3 linked regions of the Homo sapiens genome follow. The protein of the gene in region 3 purifies or fractionates together with the protein of the main gene of each other region. This does not show direct contact. Each region holds a gene or a part of one and is shown on either strand. Other genes may lie near its edges. The genes, in order: MBTD1, MIER3 and H2BC6.

The links.
Region 1: the proteins of H2BC6 (region 3) and MBTD1 purify together in Homo sapiens (affinity purification with mass spectrometry, with the first as the bait; one large-scale study listed by BioGRID). This does not show direct contact.
Region 2: the proteins of H2BC6 (region 3) and MIER3 purify together in Homo sapiens (affinity purification with mass spectrometry, with the first as the bait; one large-scale study listed by BioGRID). This does not show direct contact.

The regions. Positions count from the first base shown.
Region 1 is NC_000017.11:51,176,770-51,180,055, reverse strand, and holds the end of MBTD1 (MBT domain-containing protein 1), read left to right. Parts: 3' UTR 1-2,631; downstream 2,632-3,286. UniProt on the Homo sapiens protein: Chromatin reader component of the NuA4 histone acetyltransferase complex, a multiprotein complex involved in transcriptional activation of select genes principally by acetylation of nucleosomal histones H4 and H2A.
Region 2 is NC_000005.10:56,928,045-56,931,705, reverse strand, and holds part of MIER3 (mesoderm induction early response protein 3), read left to right. Parts: intron 1-960; coding exon 961-1,042; intron 1,043-2,805; exon of another isoform or gene 2,806-2,844; coding exon 2,845-2,939; exon of another isoform or gene 2,940-3,661.
Region 3 is NC_000006.12:26,182,172-26,184,802, forward strand, and holds H2BC6 (histone H2B type 1-C/E/F/G/I), read left to right. Parts: upstream 1-1,589; 5' UTR 1,590-1,624; coding exon 1,625-2,005; 3' UTR 2,006-2,059; downstream 2,060-2,631. UniProt on the Homo sapiens protein: Core component of nucleosome. Nucleosomes wrap and compact DNA into chromatin, limiting DNA accessibility to the cellular machineries which require DNA as a template.

The sequences.
Region 1 (3,286 bases), on a different chromosome or scaffold from region 3:
GGAAGGGTCATTATTTCTCTTGTTGGCATTTTATTGCAGCCCATTTTAAATGTTTGTACAGAAATATTTTTCATTCTGTGAAAATTTATTTGGAGTTCTGTATGAAACTGGAAGAACTCTGGATACTTTTATATGTTCTCTTTTAATTAAAAAAATGATTAGAATTATCCTAACACTAAAGTGTTAAACTGGAATGGTTGACAAGATATTCAGGATCTCAGTCTACACATTGAGGGGTTGGGGAAAATGTAATGTTGTCCTTAGTTTATTTTCCTTTCTAAAAAAAATACCCCACGAAAGGGATTCTGATCAGTTCTCTGCCATTTCCCTCTATCTGTGAAATAACAGCTTCGTATAACCACAACCAAAAACAGATGTTCTGTATTAGGAGAATCGAATTGAAAGTTATTCAAAGCCAAAATAAGTTTAGATTTCAAAATCATTCCAGCTCTGCTTTTATCTATCCTGGATTTGGTAGAAAACTAATTTGAAAGAGAATTTAATTTTCTTAAAATTCCATATATATATATATATATATATATATATATATATATATATATATATATATATAAAATTGTCTTTAATTGTATTCAGGATTTATTTTAATAATAACCGATTTGGACCATTTTGAACATTCCCTGTTTTAAAATTCATATGACTTCCTTTTAAAAAAAAAAAAAGGATACAAGGGTAAACTGGTGAAAGGTTTGCTCTCTGCATTTTCTAACTTTCTACTGAGTTGTGACTGAATGAGAGCGCTCTAGCGTTTACCAGTGAGGTTCATAAACTAAACTCTCAGGAATTAATTGCATCTGTTCTAGAAGTGCTTCTGGGTCTTAGCCTGGCCTCTTCAGAGTGGTAATATTGACCATCTCCTCTGGAATATAGGTAGGGCTAATTAGAAATTAATCAAAATGATTAACCTCTACAGTCCTTCAGCCTATGGAATGCTTTAAAAAATGTTAATGGAAAGCCCCAGGAGACCATTTTAGGTAAGACTTTTGTTTGAATTTTAAAATGCATAGAACGTTAAAAAAAACCAGCAATTTATTTTCTAAAATATTGCTCTACTTTTGGGAATAATAGCATTGGTAATACGCACAGGTTTACCTCATTCTATGCAAGAGGGGTTAATAACATAAGGTTTTATAATAGCTACTGGAAGTAAAATTTGTTACTTTATAGTGTAAGAATGTATGGAATCGCATGTCACCATTTCTTAATACTGACTCTTTAGGGGCATAAATGCAGATCACATCAACGCAAGTTGATTCTCATGTGTCAAATATATGTGAATTCAGCTGTTAAATTACTGGATATTTATCTTAACATTGCTGAGAGGGACCTACTGTAAATGTGACATCCTCACACTTCCCATATCTTTAACTTTGAAAAATCTTCTTGTAAACTTAAAGCCTAGAAGTATTCCAAAGCAAGGGTTAGAGCAGTCTTTATTCTCAGGCTCACTGAATTAAACCCAGGACTAATTCCACAGCACAGGCACAAGAAGCCTGTTGTGTAGTGTACTCTGCCAGTACCTTGGATTTAGGAGCTCCATGGGGAACTGACTAAACCAGGAGAGAGAGGATTTGGAGCTAGTCAGTCCTGGTAATCTATGAAATGCTCATTTATACCCAGGTTTCATAAGCTTCCAATTCTATAGCAAACCCAGGCTCTGAGTGTTTTAGAATTTCCTAATTCATGAAGTGTTTCTTGTCTTGATCCCGTGACCAACAGTTGAAGGTTGGTAAGGACTTTTCTACAGTCTGAACACAACCTAAAGCCCTCTTTCATTGTTCACACACTAACTCCTACTGCCGACGAACCGAAAAATAATTAATGCAGAGGAGATTTATGTCTTAGCCATAACTCCAGTTGTACAACTCAATCGCCCCATTCTCTTTTACGGTTCAAAATGTACTGCTGACCTTGGGTTTGTTTTTGTTTTGTTTTGTTTTTCCTGTTAGGATTTATTTGGGGACTTTTGGTAGTTTAAACTCTTTAACCTTTTCCTTGCCGTGTATGAGGAAAGCTAAAGCTGTTATCAACTTCTTATTCTACGATACTAACACGGGTTTTCAGTGTTTGTTTGTTTTTATTATTATTATTAATTTTGCGTGATGTGAATACCCTCTCCCATCAATATTTGTATTATGGTGCTATATATTGGTAATGATCCTTTAATATTGGGAAGGGATTTTAAAAATACTGTGATTAAACTGGGTTTCTTCCTTTGATTTTCATATTTTAAATAAAGCCACAGTCATTTATACAAAAGAAAAGCATCTGTCCCTGGGCAAATCTTTTGAGGACAGAGGTCAAAGTAAACTGCATAAGGTTTTTACATCATTTCTGTATGTATTTGATATATAGATCAATATCTGTACAAATTTAATCTTTTATTTTCTTGGTAACTCGTGATCATTGAGAAAGTGTTTGAAACTTTCTCATGAAGTGTATATATAATGGCGTGAAAAATTCCTTTGGAAAAATTTATGTTCCTTTCATTTTTACCAAATTGCAAATTTTCAGCATGGATGTGAAAAGCATTAAAATTATAACTTTGTGTACAAGATGAAAATAATTCACTAAATTTGCCCTTTTTTACACAAAATAAAATGTTAAAGTTAAGCTGGATTTGAGCAGTTCTTTAATATGCTTTGGTTTGGGGGGTTGCTTTTCTATTGCGTGCCCTCTATAAGCAGTCAGAGACCCCTATGAAAGTTGGATCAGCCCCTTCCTCTTACAAGGGGTAGCAGGCACATGAGTGCTGTAAGGAAGAATTTTCCACTAGCTGCCAAGGGAGCCAAGAGTAGTATGGTTAGACATATGGATGAGGTTGCATTGGAGGTGGGATTTCATGGGCAGGGAGGGAAAGGGCAAAAACCACAGCAGGAGCCAAGGTGAATAGGGACCTTTATGGGGAAATTAAATCATCTTAGCTAGAACATCGTGTTTTGGGGTTGGCATGCTTAGTAGGAGACTTTTTTTTTTTTTTTTTTTTTTGAGATGGAGTCTTGCTCTGTCACCCAGGCTGGAGTGCAGTGGCGCTATATCGGCTCACTGCAACCTCCACCTCCCATGTTCACACCATTCTCCTGCCTCAGCCTCCTGAGTAGCTGGGACTACAGGCGCCTGCCACCACGACCGGCTAATTTTTTGTATTTTTAGTCGAGACGGGGTTTCACCGTGTTAGCCAGGATGGTCTTGATCTCCTGACCGCGTGAGCCACCATGCCTGGCTAGTAGGAGACTTTTTTTTAACTCCATTAACCTCAGCAGCAAAG
Region 2 (3,661 bases), on a different chromosome or scaffold from region 3:
TTGGTGCCTGCTTTTGGTGGAAGTAATACATCTAAGGTTTTTACATTAAGAATAATACTGATCCTTGGTTCTACTGTCTTTATTACAGCAAGATAATATCCATCTATTTATAACTATTATGGGTTTTTTCTTTTTAAAATTAGAAATGAATATCAGATACTTTTTAAGCAGCTGTTGATTTGATTTTTTTAAATTGAAATTTAATTATACATATTTAGGTACACAGTGATGTCTTGATACACATAATGTATAGTGATCAGATCAGGGTAATTAGCTCAGAGATGATTTTTTTAAATGTAGGCTATTGATATATTAAAAGTTTTCCTAATATTGAACCATCTTCACTTCCTTAAAACTTACTTGGGAAGGTAGATAGATTATTTAACTTTCAATTGAATTCTGTTATTCCTGTTTATTATGTTCATAATTCCAAGCAGATTTAATAGGAATATATTCTAATTTTGAAAAGTGGCACCTTTCATAGTAGATGGAAATAACGGAGACCGTTATAATCCTAGTCTGAAGTGCCATGCCTATTATTCCAGGCCTGCTGCTGTTCCCTTATATTAAAACTAAAAGAGACAGGGAGGAAATGACATCAAGGGACAGACTGTAACTAATTTTTCCAAACTAGAAAAAGAAACATCTAAAATAGGGGAAACTCTAATCTTAGACCTAGTGTTTTTATTTGTTTGTTTTTAAAAAAAAGTCAAGAATGATACAGGCAGGTGACTTCTGAGAGGTAGCATGAGGATGAACAAACTCACATGGTACCAGAGTCAATCTGCATGATAGTTATATAGACTAAATGCTTGGGCAAATATACCTTCAAATGCCCTGAAATTAGAGAGGATTTCAGTGTTTATCAAGACTCCAATATTTATCAAAACTCTTACACCTGTTTTTTAAAATGCTGTTAGGTATGAACTTTTAATACTTTTTATTGAATATCCATCCCAGGCATTATATGAACTTCTCAAGTGTAACCACAATATAAAGGAAGCAATCGAAAGATACTGCTGCAATGGAAAGGCCTCTCAAGGTAAGAAACACTTGGGTTTAAGAGAGGGACATGACAGGGATGGTCATTTGGGGATCAGAATAAGCAAAGTATCCTAAGGGACAGAGCAATCCTGTAACACTTTTGTAAGATCTGGTTCAGCTCCATAGCAAATAATTTTTCCTTTTCTTGCACTCTATTTTTAGATGTATCAGAGACTGTTCAAACACAAATTAGTCACCCCCCTGCCACCTCTACTTTCTGGAAGAAATAGTTACAGAACAAAGCAGACCCCAGACATGACAATATGTCCAAAGTAATTAAAAAGAATGGTTTTATGATTTCATTGAAAAAAAGATTTTTTCTTTTTTTTTTTCAGCCAGACAGGAAATGAAAAGGAGATTAAAGATTAAAAAAGAAACATGTATAATATATTCCGCTGAATTTATTTCAAGAATTGTATTTTTAGTAATCATGTAATAACATTTTATAGTTCTTATGTTTTGTGTGTGTCAAGGAAAATGGTTAACTTCTATTTCAGTATTTTTTGTCATTATATAAATGGATTGCATGCACCATAGCTTTCATTAAATATGTGTAGAATGAAAATAATACTTAGTAATATTACTAGATGACTTGGGAAGGTATTAAAACTAAAAATAATACATTTAAACTTATGAATTGAGATAGTCTATTAAAATGTCTCCCTTAGAAAAGCTGCTTCTTTGAAAAAAAATTATTTTAGGCTCTCAAAACTCTCAAAATACTGGTTTCTTCCTTAGTTCAAACTATTTTTCACCTTTATTACGGACTGCTATTAATGGCTTTGGGGACCTGGTCTCCCATGTCAAATGAGACACTTCAGAGATACAGATGAGTAATAACTAATCTTAAGTCTAGGCTGTGACTCTTTGAAGACCTTCCAGGTCTCTGCCCCAAGTAGATACGGAATTCACCAACATTAACATCTGCTGGGAAATTGAATGGGATTTATTATTTTGAGAGCATGGACTGTTTCTTATTTCCTTTATATTTCCAGAGTATAGCACTCCACACACCAATTTCAAATAAATATGTGTTGATTATGCTTTACTTATGGTCTCTAATTAAAGAACTTGTGGTTTTGTTTTTTGTCTTTTTTGAGACAGGGTCTCACTCTGTCTCCCAGGCTGGAGGGCAGTGGCATGATCACAGCTTAGTATAGCCTTGATCTCGTGGGCTCAGGTGATCCTCCCACCTCAGCTTCCCAAGTAGCCGGAACTATAGGTGCCCGCCACCACGCCTGGCTAGTTTGTTTTTTTGTAAAGACAGGGTTTTTCCATGTTGCCCATGCTGATTTCAAACTCCTGGGCTCAAGTGATCCTCCTGCGCTGGCCTCCCAAAGTGCTGGGATTACAGGCATGAGCCACCGCACCTGGCTAGAACTTGTGGTTTTGAAGTAAGACCAAAACAGAGCTTCTTTCCCCCAATAAAGGAGGTAGAGTTTTTTTTTCTAATTGAAAAATACGCTCATTGTTTAAAAAAATTTTTTTTAATCAGAAAAACAGGCATGTTATAGAAAACTTAAATTCTCATCCCATAATGTAGTGGAAAAAAAGCAGTGTTTATATTTTTGTATTCTAGACTTGAACTGTAGTATGCATGCTTTTGGTAATTCTAACTGAAATCTCCTGCATACAGAGAGAGAGAGAGAGAGAGAGTGTGTGTGTGTGTGAGAGAGAGAGTGTGTGTGTGTGAGAGAGAGAGAGAGTTTGTGACCTTTTACAGGGAAAACATACTGAAAATCAGTGATTCACATAAGAAAATTTGGGGGCCCATAAATTTTATTTTAAAATTTTTCTTAGAAGGAATGACTGCATGGACGGAAGAAGAATGCCGAAGCTTTGAACATGCACTCATGCTTTTTGGAAAAGATTTTCATCTTATACAGAAGAATAAGGTAAATTAGGCAGATTAGTACAGATAAATTACTAGTTACAGTGAATGTAAGCAACTAATTTATAAGTCACTTAAGTAGGAAAAAAGAACAACTTACTAATGTTCCCTTATAGCATTTCAGATATCATTCTAACATGACTAATTTGCTCAGAGATGCCACAGCCTGCTTATGGAATGGCTGATAGTATATTCACATATCTTTTCACATAAACAGTTGACACAGAAAGTGGACTCACTGTATTTTTTAGGAAGTCTCACTCTCATTTCTCCTTGACTTTCCTTTCTTATCAAGCCATTCAGAGGTTTGTGGCCTCAAAATAATTTCTCTTCAGCAGTGAGAGTAGCTGTTGCTGAAGGAAGAAACATTGTTACTAAAACAACTAGAAACATATTCTAACACCACCAAATGCTGGTAAGGATGGGAAGCAACAGGAACTCTTATTCATTGCCTGTAGGAATGCAAAGTGGTATGGCCACGTTGGAAGATAGCTTGGAAGTTTCTTATAATACCAACCATACTCTTACCGTATAATTAAATAATCCTGTTCCTTGGCATTTACCCAAATGCGTTGAAAACTTATGTCCACACAAAAGTGTTTATAGCAGCTTTCATCATAATTGCTAAAACTTGGAAGGAACCTGTATGTCCTTTGAGGTGAAAGGATAAACAAAGTGTGGCACCTCCAGAACTGGACTATTATTCAGCACTAAAAAAATTGAGCT
Region 3 (2,631 bases):
CCAGCTAATTTTTTGTATTTTTCGTAGAGACAGGGTTTCACCGTGTTAGCCAGGATGGTCTCGATCTCCTGACCTTGTGATCCGCCCGCCTCAGCCTCCCAAACTGCTGGGATTACAGGCGTGAGCCACCGCGCCCGGCCCTTTTTTTTTTTTTTTTTAAGAAGGAGTTTTGCTCTGGTTGCCCAGGCTGGAGTACAGCGGTGCAGTCTCAGCTCACTGCAACCCCCACCTCCCGTGTTCAAGCGATTCTCCTGCCTCAGCCTCCCAAGTAGTTGGGATGACAGGCGTGTGCCACCCTACTCAGCTAAGTTTTTGTATTTAGTAGAGACGGGGTTTCACCATGTTGGTCAGGCTGGTCTCGAACTCCTGCCCTCAGGTGATCCACCCGCCTCGGCCTCCCAAAGTGCTGGGATTACAGGCTTGCGCCACTGCGCCCGGCCCAAGATTTTTTGATTAAATAAATACAAATAAAGCACATTAGCTATTATTCTGAACACTGCTACATTAGCTACATTGAAAATTAAAAAAGATGTTAAACAGATTTTAAGGTTTTCTCGTCATCACTGAAGTGAGAAAAACAAATTATTTTGTGAAACAAAGATAAGACACAATAAATTCAGAGTACACTTTTGTTAGATGCTAACCCACAGAGCGGAATACTTTTTGCGCAGCACCTTCATTCCTGGAGACTTAGGGCCCGGGAAATGGGAATGGTGGCAGGAGAGGAGAAGGGCTAGGGGGCTGGGGAGCGTGGGGTGAAGGAGTGGGGGCTTAAAAAGGACAGTCAAATTTAGGAAGAACAGTTTCTTAAACTGAAGTTAGCTAAGCAGCGGGCTTCAGCCAAAGATAATAATACTAACTTGAAAGTAAAGCTGTTTGTTAAATAGGCTTTCATTTTAATTTTTTAAAAAATATTTTCACTAGTTAGACGGAATATTTATTTCTGATCCTCGTTGTAGGGCTAAACTAGGTGTGACTTGCTTTTCCATTAAGGACTGTAGCCATTTTGGCTAAGAAAGTCTTTCCTGTCTTAGCTCTCTTCAAGAGATGCTATTTACTTTTTTGTTGTTGTTTTCTCCGGAGCTTTATTGCCTACCCTTTATTTTCACGATGTGTTTGTGCATTCTGTAAAAAGTGGGAAACACTGTTCTCCGGATTGTGTGGGTGATCGCCGGTCGCCTAGCTTGCCGTTCTTCAGGTATCTCCTGCTGCTCCAGAATCTACATCTGAATGTCAAGGCATAGCTTTTCCAGGAGCTTTTAAACCGACCTTTCAATTCGAAGACGTAACTGCGCCAGGAGCTTTGTCTCCCTGGCATATAAAAGCATAGAAGAGAGCAACTTCTGGTTTTTAAAATAAGTAAACTAATCTGAATTGTTTGCAATGGTAGGAACTTGTTATATAAAATGTTAATTAGGTGGCCCGTGCTCGAAAACTGCTCTCAGGATATGACCAATGGGAGAGTAGACCTAAGCTCCTTCATTTGCATGCAGACTTCACGACAAAATAACGAATCAGAGTTGGAGAAACTAAATCTTCATTTACATAACATTGTCTACAAATTCCGAGGATCAGGAGATGTAGATTTCATTTTCTTTCCTAACTGCAGAACAGCAAAGATAGCATGCCTGAGCCAGCGAAATCCGCTCCCGCCCCGAAGAAGGGCTCCAAGAAGGCCGTGACCAAGGCGCAGAAGAAGGACGGCAAGAAGCGCAAGCGCAGCCGCAAGGAGAGCTACTCCGTATACGTGTACAAGGTGCTGAAACAGGTCCACCCCGACACCGGCATCTCCTCTAAAGCCATGGGGATCATGAATTCCTTTGTCAACGACATCTTCGAGCGCATCGCCGGCGAGGCTTCCCGCCTGGCGCATTACAACAAGCGCTCGACCATCACCTCCAGGGAGATCCAGACGGCCGTGCGCCTGCTGCTTCCCGGGGAGCTGGCCAAGCACGCTGTGTCAGAGGGCACCAAGGCCGTTACCAAGTACACCAGCTCCAAGTAAACTTGTCCCTGCAACTGCCTTAGTAAACCCAAAGGCTCTTTTCAGAGCCACTCACCTTTTCACAATTGGAGCTATATACTGACATGTGAAGATACTAGAAACTCCTGCAGCTGAAATAGGCATGTTTTTAAAACTTAAAATGGCACTCACTGTCTGGGCTGGTGGCTTTATGAAACTCTGGTTTCCGTGTTTTATGAGGTATCACTCGATAGTACCTAAGAGGCAATAGTAATTTCATAGTTTTGCTCTACGAAGAGAAACTTCGTTTCTCAAGAGTCCTTAAAAATACGGGTTTTACCAAAGAAGCCCATATTATGGGGGGCTGGAGCGGGGGTGGGGAAGGAGGAGAGGAGACTGCTGCTTTCAAGTAGTTCTTAATGTTGAATTTGCTTTTTTCCTTTCCTCAATTACTTCAAAAAGGTCTTAATTTGGATTTTTATTTTAGGTTCTAAAGGAAAAAATAAAACCCTCTTCCCTCTACCGCCTCACCTGTCTGGTTTCACCAATTAGACTTGAACAATTCTCAGTGTGCAACCACACTCGCGCTCGCACACAAACACATACACACATTGTTCATTGATCGACAATCCCCATCTCATCTTTATCATGTTCTTAGAGAAGTTGGG